Linked DNA regions of Homo sapiens. The protein of the gene in region 1 interacts with the protein of each later gene in a biochemical or structural test. Each region holds a gene or a part of one and is shown in the gene's direction. Other genes may lie near its edges.

Region 1 (3,745 bases):
TTGTTTTTACTGGGAAAAATTGCTGCTAAATTTTAGGAAGTTCTGCTGTCCTCAAAAAGAAAAATATGTCCCTCAGTTTTTTGTTACCTGGGATCTAGGAATGTTCTCTAATTAAAGAAATGGAATGGTGATGGTGTGTTGAAAGGTATAGGTTAATGAGTTAAAAAAAAAAAATCTACATTGCACCCTAAGGAAGGATGAACTTAACTATGCTGAACTGAATTGACAAGGGTTGAGCTAGTCAGTGTGCTAATGAGCAGGCTACTATTCTCATAGAATTTTTAAAAGTCTTTTCTGCCTGATATGTATGTGTGTATAATATGTATTTATATATGTATATATTTGTGTGTATATTTATTACATTTTTGTTTCCACAGGCTCTGTCATAAGTCTGGTCATTAATAGCATATATTTGATTAAAAGAATATGTGGCTTGGTAAATTATGTGAATGTTATATTAAAATGAATTTCACATTGTCTTGATTTACAAAGGCTAAGATGTCTGAGAAACTGAGAGATGTCAATCAACAGACTATTGTTTTAGCAATTGTACATAACACATAAAAATTCTGAATCAAAGTTATTATGTTATTCAATTGTGACCATACCTATTTTTTGTGACATTTTACAAAAATGAATAAAGTATGCACCATACAGTCTTACCACAGAAGTAAGGCAGGGTGGCATATGGCGAAACCACTTCAAGCTGCTGAAGTAGTTAACTGTGAAATATTTTACTGTCATAATATAGCATTATTTTCTGCCAGATGAATCATTCCGAAGAAGCTGTTTTCATGGTCAGTGTAAAAGTCCTTTTGTTAAATACTTATGTCTTAACTACCTACTAGATATTAAAAAAAACAAAACCACACACACACCAGACCTAGGTGCAAGGAAGGGATAATAAGCCCTGATGCAGTTCTTAGGTGAGAACTGGAAAGGGGCCGGAGGGTTTCAGAGCAACAAGCAAAGTCAGTGAAGCAGAGTAAATCCAAATACTTGGCCAATGACAAATAAACCAGAAAGGAGACACGCCAGCTGTTCACGCTGGAAAGTTACTGATCGTTTATTCTGGTTCAAGTTTTATTTATTCTATGAATAAGGGACAAGTTTTCGATGGGGGTGGGGTGTCTTATTCCTTATTACAAGAATAAGGAACGGGGAGTTTTCAAGGCAGGCGGGTGTTTCCTCAGGGCGCTTCCACACTCCCCTTTCAATCAGCAACCGCTCGGGGGGACCTCCACCTTGGGACGGAACCCCAGGACGCCTCTCCTCGGACGGCGGGGGTTTCTCTGCGCGCGTCCTCGGTCGTCTGGTCGCACGGCTTACCGAACTCTCGCCTCTCAAATTCTGAGTTCTGGAACAGGGCAGCGAGCTGCGCCGGCTCCCCTTTCTCGCTCGCTCCCTCCGAGCAGCGGCTGGCGGCGGGGCCCAGGCTGCGAACAAAGGCGGCGCGGGGCGCGCGGCCGGGGCTGGCGCGCGTCTCTCCGGCAGGAGGCGGTGGCGGCGCCGCGCCCGAGCCCGCATTCCTCAGAAGCGCCCGGAGCCCGCGGGGCGACGTCACCCCCGGCTCCGCCCCCGTCCCTCCCCGAGCAAAGTAACTCTTGACTAACAGGAGCAGCCTCCGCCGAGCATGGAGAGCTGCCGCCGCGGCCGGCCGGCGACGCTGGCGACGCTTTCGCCCCTGAGGTAGTTTGGCGACCGCGAAGAAGGAAAAAGGGCGGGCGGGCGGCTGTCCTCTCACCGTCCTCACCCCGCGAGGCCCGGCCCGCTCCTCCGTCGTGGATTTCGCGGCGATCCCCCCGGCAGCTCTTTGCAAAGCTGCTTGAAACTTCTCCCAAACTCGGCATGGATACGACTGCGGCGGCGGCGCTGCCTGCTTTTGTGGCGCTCTTGCTCCTCTCTCCTTGGCCTCTCCTGGGATCGGCCCAAGGCCAGTTCTCCGCAGGTGAGTGGCCGGGGGGCGTCCCCGACGAACGCCTGGAGTCCTGGGCTCACGAGGGGTGAGCCAGGTCCCCGCTAGGGCTGGGGACAAGGATCGTGGGGAGCTCTCTCTGTCCGGGGGTGGGGAACACAGGGTAGAGGGAGGGCTGTCCCCAGAGTTCGTGCCAGGTGGGACGCGGGGCACCCATTGTTCCTCTCCGAAGCTTGCTCGGGGCTCAGGCTGGCACGGTCTAGCCGGAGAGTGTGGGGACCTGCTGGCTTCGGCGTCTCGCGTGGCCTGCGCCGGGCTAGTGGGGAAGAGAGAAAGAAAAAGTAGTTACGACTCCCGTGACGGCACTCTGTTGCTTGTGGTGCGGGTTTGTTGCTGTCTGCCACTTGGGTGTTTAAACAAATTCCCTGGGAAGCCATTGTCAGAAATGTGGAGATTCGAAGGGACTGACCTCGGCGCGCTTTGCCAGGTGCTTTTTGTCCCGGGAATAACCTCCCCTGACTATTGTCTAACTACTTCCCCGTCCCTCCCGGAGTCCCCTTTTCTCCTCCCCCAGCTCTGGGTTGCTCCCGGGCTTGCCCTGTGCGCTCGGGCACTGCTTGGAGCATGTTCTGTGTGTGTGTTGGCGGAGCCCTGTAAGATGTGTTGAAATGCGGTTCTAAGGACCCACTCTGAGCGTTCATGGGCATCGAGGTCTGGGCGCCTGGTGGAGGAAGCCTGACTCGCGCGTGGGAGCCCGCTCCTCGGGCAAAACCACCGCCAGGCTGGCCCCGCGCTCCCCGGATCCGGCCTGGGGCTCTGGCCCCGCGCTCCCCGGATCCGGCCTGGGGCTGGAAGCGGACTGTAAATGTCTGCCTTCTGCCGGAGAACCCAAAAGGAGACAAGTGGAGCGTCTCGCTGTAGCCCTGGGGGTTCTCGGTCAAGCCGCTCAGAGAAGTCCGTGAACCCTGGCTCTCCCGGTCCCGCCCTCTGTTCCCCTCCAGTTTTGTTATCCTTCGTGTAGGTTGGTTGCTTCTTTCGTTCTCTCCTCTGGGGGCTCTGAAGTTTCACCAGGTGGACGCTGGGGAGCGGGCTCCCGAGCACTTGTCTACCTCCCGCCAGTCCTGACAACTTTTCTGGCCAACCTACCCAGCTTCGCTTGGCTGGCGAGCGCATCTGCTGCTGGGGTTCGCGGTGCAGATGGAGACGCAGTGGTGGCCAGAGGGTGATGGAGAAGACGGGAAAAGCGACAGCCACGCTCCTGGCTGAAGCCGCAGGACGCAAATAACTTACTTTGTACCTGACAGTTTCTCACGTTGTTGTGGAGGCCCTGTTTCCTGGAAATAAACTCAAATTGTTGTTTTCTGGAGTAATCGTTTATTTCCCTTCCATTGCTCTCCTACCCCCGCCCCATTTAGAACTCTGTAAAGGGAGTTAAACAACAGATTCAGGTGGCAGCATGTGTCGTACATTCAGGCAGAGATTATGAAATGGCAGCACGCAGAGGAAAAGCCCTGTATATAATTGATGTACGCAGAGGGTAACAGCTCTATGCAAAAAATAATCCAATGGTTTAATTGAATTCTTTCTGGAGTAAGCATTACTGCATGCATTTCTGACATATAATGCCCGTTAGCATTGAAACCGTGCTTGATGTAACTCATTATATGCAGGCAAGTTGGAGTGAGTATTGATTTCTGCACAGTGTTTGTCACTGCACGGAGAGCCTACGCTTGAAAAGGCTTGTAGTTTGTTAATTGAAAGTTTGAACTCTACCAGTTGCATAATTAAACTTACATGTATTCAAGAGTTGCAACTATTAATGTCTCAACA
Region 2 (3,645 bases), on another chromosome or scaffold:
ACCTGGATTCTACCAGTTGTTAACCTTTTCCATATTTGCTTGTATACATTACCCCCTCACCTCCCCCAAATTTTTTTTTTTGAGACGGAGTCTCGCTCTGTCGCCCAAGTTGGAGTGCAGTGGCGCGATCTCGGCTCACTGCAAGCTCCGCCTCCTGGGTTCACACCATTCTCCTGCCTCAGCCTCCCAAGTAGCTGGGACCACAGGCGCCTGCCACCATGCCCGGCTAATTTTTTTGTATTTTTAGTAGAGACGGGGTTTCACCCTGTTAGCTAGGATGGAATTGATCTCCTGACCTCGTGATCCGCCCACCTCGGCCTCCCAAAGTGCTGGGATTTACAGGCATGAGCCACCACACCTGGCCCAAAATTTTTTTCTATTATTTTTATTATTTGAAAGTAAGTCACACACATGATAGCATTTCACCCCAGAATCCTTCTCCAGATGCCTTCTGAGCTCAGAAGCTGTCACCTGTACAACCTCTTCATCATCACATCCGAGATAGCATTAACATTGCATTTTTTTTTTTTTTTTGAGATGGAATCTCGTGCTGTTGCCCAGGCTGGAGTGCAGTAGTGCGATCTTGGCTCACTGCAACCTCCGCCTTCTGGGTTCAAGTGATTCTCCTGCCTCTGCCTCCCAAGTAGCTGGGACTTACAGGTGTGTACCACCAGTCGTGGCTAATTTTTGCATTTTTAGTAGAGGTGGAATTTTATTGTAACGTGGCATTTTCTAATGCAAAGGTGACGTGCAGCCTTCCTCAGTGGTCACCTGTCCTCCTCAAAGCTCTTTCTTGTTCTTCTTTCTTTCTCTCTCTTTTTTTTTTTTAGAGACAGAGTTTTGCTCTGTTGCCCAAACTAGAATGCAGTGGCATGATCATAGCTCACTGCAGCCTTGAACTCCCTTGGGCTCAAGCCATCCTCCAGCCTTAGCCTCCTGAGTAGCTGGGACTATAGGCCTGTGCCACCACACCTGGCTAATTTTTTTTGTTTGAGACGGAGTCTGGCTCTGTTCCCCAGGCTGGAGTGCAGTGGTGTGATGTCGGCTCACTGTAACCTCCGCCTCCTGGGTTCAAGCAATTCTCCTGCTTCAGCTTCATGAGTAGCTAGGATTACAGGCGCCCACCGCCACACTCGGCTAATTTTTATATTTTCAGTAGAGACGGCGTTTTACCATCTTGGCTAGGCTGGTCGCGAACTCCTAATGTCATGATTCACCCGCCTTGGCCTCCCAAAGCGTGAGATTACAGGCGTAAGCCACCATGCCCAGCACTGGCTAATTATAATTTTTAAAATTTTTTGTACAGATGGGGTCTCGCTTTGTTGCCCAGGCTGGTCTTGGACTGGGTTAAAGTGATCCTACCACCTGCTCCTCCCAAAATGCTGGGAATACAGGCATGAGCTACAGCAACCTGGCCAGCATTTCTTAAAATATGAGGGTAGTTGTCTCGTATTTTATATAAATACAGGATTCACAATCTGGATTTGTCTCATTGTTTCCTTGTTAGATTAGGTTCAGGCTAAGTATTTATGGCAAGAATACTGCTTAGGAGATGATGAGCTAAAGGTAACTTTTTTTTTCAAGATGGAGTCTCACTCTGTCACCCAGGCTGGAGTGCAGTGGCGCGATCTCGGCTCACTGCAACCTCTGCCACCCGGGTTCAAGCGATTCTCCTGCCTCAGCCTCCTGAGTAGCTGTGATTACAAGTGCCTACCACTGCGCCCGGCTAATTTTTGTGTTTTTAGTAGAGACGGGGTTTCACCATCTTGGTTAGGCTAATCTTGAACTCCTGACCTCGTGATCTACCCACCTCAGCCTCCCAAAGTGCTTTGAGACAGAGTCTCGCTCTGTCGCCCAGTCTGGAGTGCAGTGGCGCGATCTCGGCTCACTGCAATCTCCACCTCCCCGGTTCAAGCGATTCTCCTGCCTCAGCCTCATGAGTAGCTGGGATTACAGGCTCCTGCCACCATGCTGGGCTAATTTGTGTATTTTTAGTAGAGATGGGGTTTCACCATGTTGGCCAGGCTGGTCTTGAACTCCTGACCTCAAGCCATCTGCCTTGGCCTCCCAAAGTGCTGGGATTACAGGTGTGAACCACCGTGCCCGGCCTTCCTTAGTGGCCCTTCTAACCTTAAGCTGCTTTTCCTTCCTGACAGCGGGGCCCTACTCTCCTGGTCTCTTTCCTGCTTGGGCAAGGTGCCATGAGGCTTTTCCTAGGCCTTGACTTTGCTGTAGCTTCTAAGGTGTCCTGTGGCGGCAAAAGGGACGTGTGCTCTGTGGGTGGGTGCAGCCACCTGTAGAGCTGCAGCTATATCCGCAGGATGGTTGTGTGACTGATGGTCCTTGGGGAGCCCAGCAGTGAGGATCTCAGCAGCCCACCTGTCTCAGAGTCCCCGCTGTGCACCCAGGCCCAGGGCTCAGTGAGTGAGAGCTCTCCGACCTCGGTGGGGGCGGGGCTAATTGACCTTCAGACCCACCGTGTGCCAGTGCTGGCTGGCACACAGCACTGCTTGGACTTCCCCTGTGGGAAAGGATGGGGACAGATCAGTCTTTGGAAGAATGGAGCGCTGGCTTTGCTCAGCCCTGTTCTTGGGAAGGTTTGATCTGGAGAGCCGCAGCAGCCAGACCCTGGGGAGGCAGGTTAGTGAGCAGGCTCCCAACTTACGAGCTAGGAAGGCTGACGGCTGCTCATTTCCCCCCATGTGGACCTCATCAGGGGGTCCTTCCTGAGGGCGAGCGCTAGGTTCGTCTGCGTTTCTCTCTCCCAGTTGGGCCTGACTCTGGACGCCAGGCTGAGGGAGTACACAGCTCCTTCAGAGCACGGGCTCAGACGCTCAGATGCTCGGAGCGCTTCCGGCTGCTTTTCCATGGGTAACTCACATGTTCTTCCTGCAGGCTGGCATTTGTCTTTCATGGCTTTTTTCCATCGGTCAGAATTACAGTCTTTTGATTGTATGTACGTACCTGGTTATTATCAGATATCTAGTTTAAAATGTGCATCTGAATATAGATTTTCTTGGTGAACGCATTGCGTTCTCATTCCGTAAAAAGTCGGAAGCTCAAAATGATGCTTAAAAAAAAATCTTAGCAAGCTCTCCTGTGCAGATGCTGCTGGCGCTGAGCTTTGTGCCTGGGGCAGAAAGGGTGAGGACGGCCCCGGTTGGTTTAGGAAAAGTGGTTATGAACAGAACGGGCCCCATGCTCCTGGCCTGAGGAAATGTTGTGTGAAAAAGATGGCTTCTACAGCTTGAAGGGGGACGGTCCACCTGATGCTCCTGTCCCTCTCTGAGCCCCAGGGGCAGAAGGGAAACAGTCAATAGCACGGCCGTTGCAGATGGTGCCCATAGAGGGAGGGTAGTTAGTGTCTGAGCAGGAGAGGGTGACCGGCCTTTGTGGGGCTGCTTCAGAGAGCCGGGCAGAGTCTGGGCCCCAACGTGGACTAGCAGGGGAGGAGCTCTCCTGGCTGGGGTGGCGACTCGGGGAGGTCTGGGTTGCCTGAGCAGGGAATCGGCCTCCAGTGGGGGAGGTTCTGAGTGGGACGCGCTCTTCGTGTGGGCCTGGAGGACCTCTAGGCGGCCTGCACTCGCCTGATACAGCTGGCTTCTGCTGGGAGGCTGGGTTTGCATCCAAACTCTGAGACCTTTT

Evidence for each region. The genes of interacting proteins can lie anywhere in the genome.
Region 2: of the proteins of PTPRK (region 1) and PDPK1, one has a biochemical effect on the other in vitro, tested with the Homo sapiens proteins (one large-scale study listed by IntAct).

Annotation. Positions count from the first base shown.
Region 1 is NC_000006.12:128,518,462-128,522,206, reverse strand, and holds the start of PTPRK (receptor-type tyrosine-protein phosphatase kappa isoform b precursor), read left to right. Parts: upstream 1-1,607; 5' UTR 1,608-1,848; coding exon 1,849-1,948; intron 1,949-3,745. UniProt on the Homo sapiens protein: Regulation of processes involving cell contact and adhesion such as growth control, tumor invasion, and metastasis. Negative regulator of EGFR signaling pathway. Forms complexes with beta-catenin and gamma-catenin/plakoglobin.
Region 2 is NC_000016.10:2,544,521-2,548,165, forward strand, and holds part of PDPK1 (3-phosphoinositide-dependent protein kinase 1), read left to right. Parts: intron 1-2,307; exon of another isoform or gene 2,308-3,645. UniProt on the Homo sapiens protein: Serine/threonine kinase which acts as a master kinase, phosphorylating and activating a subgroup of the AGC family of protein kinases.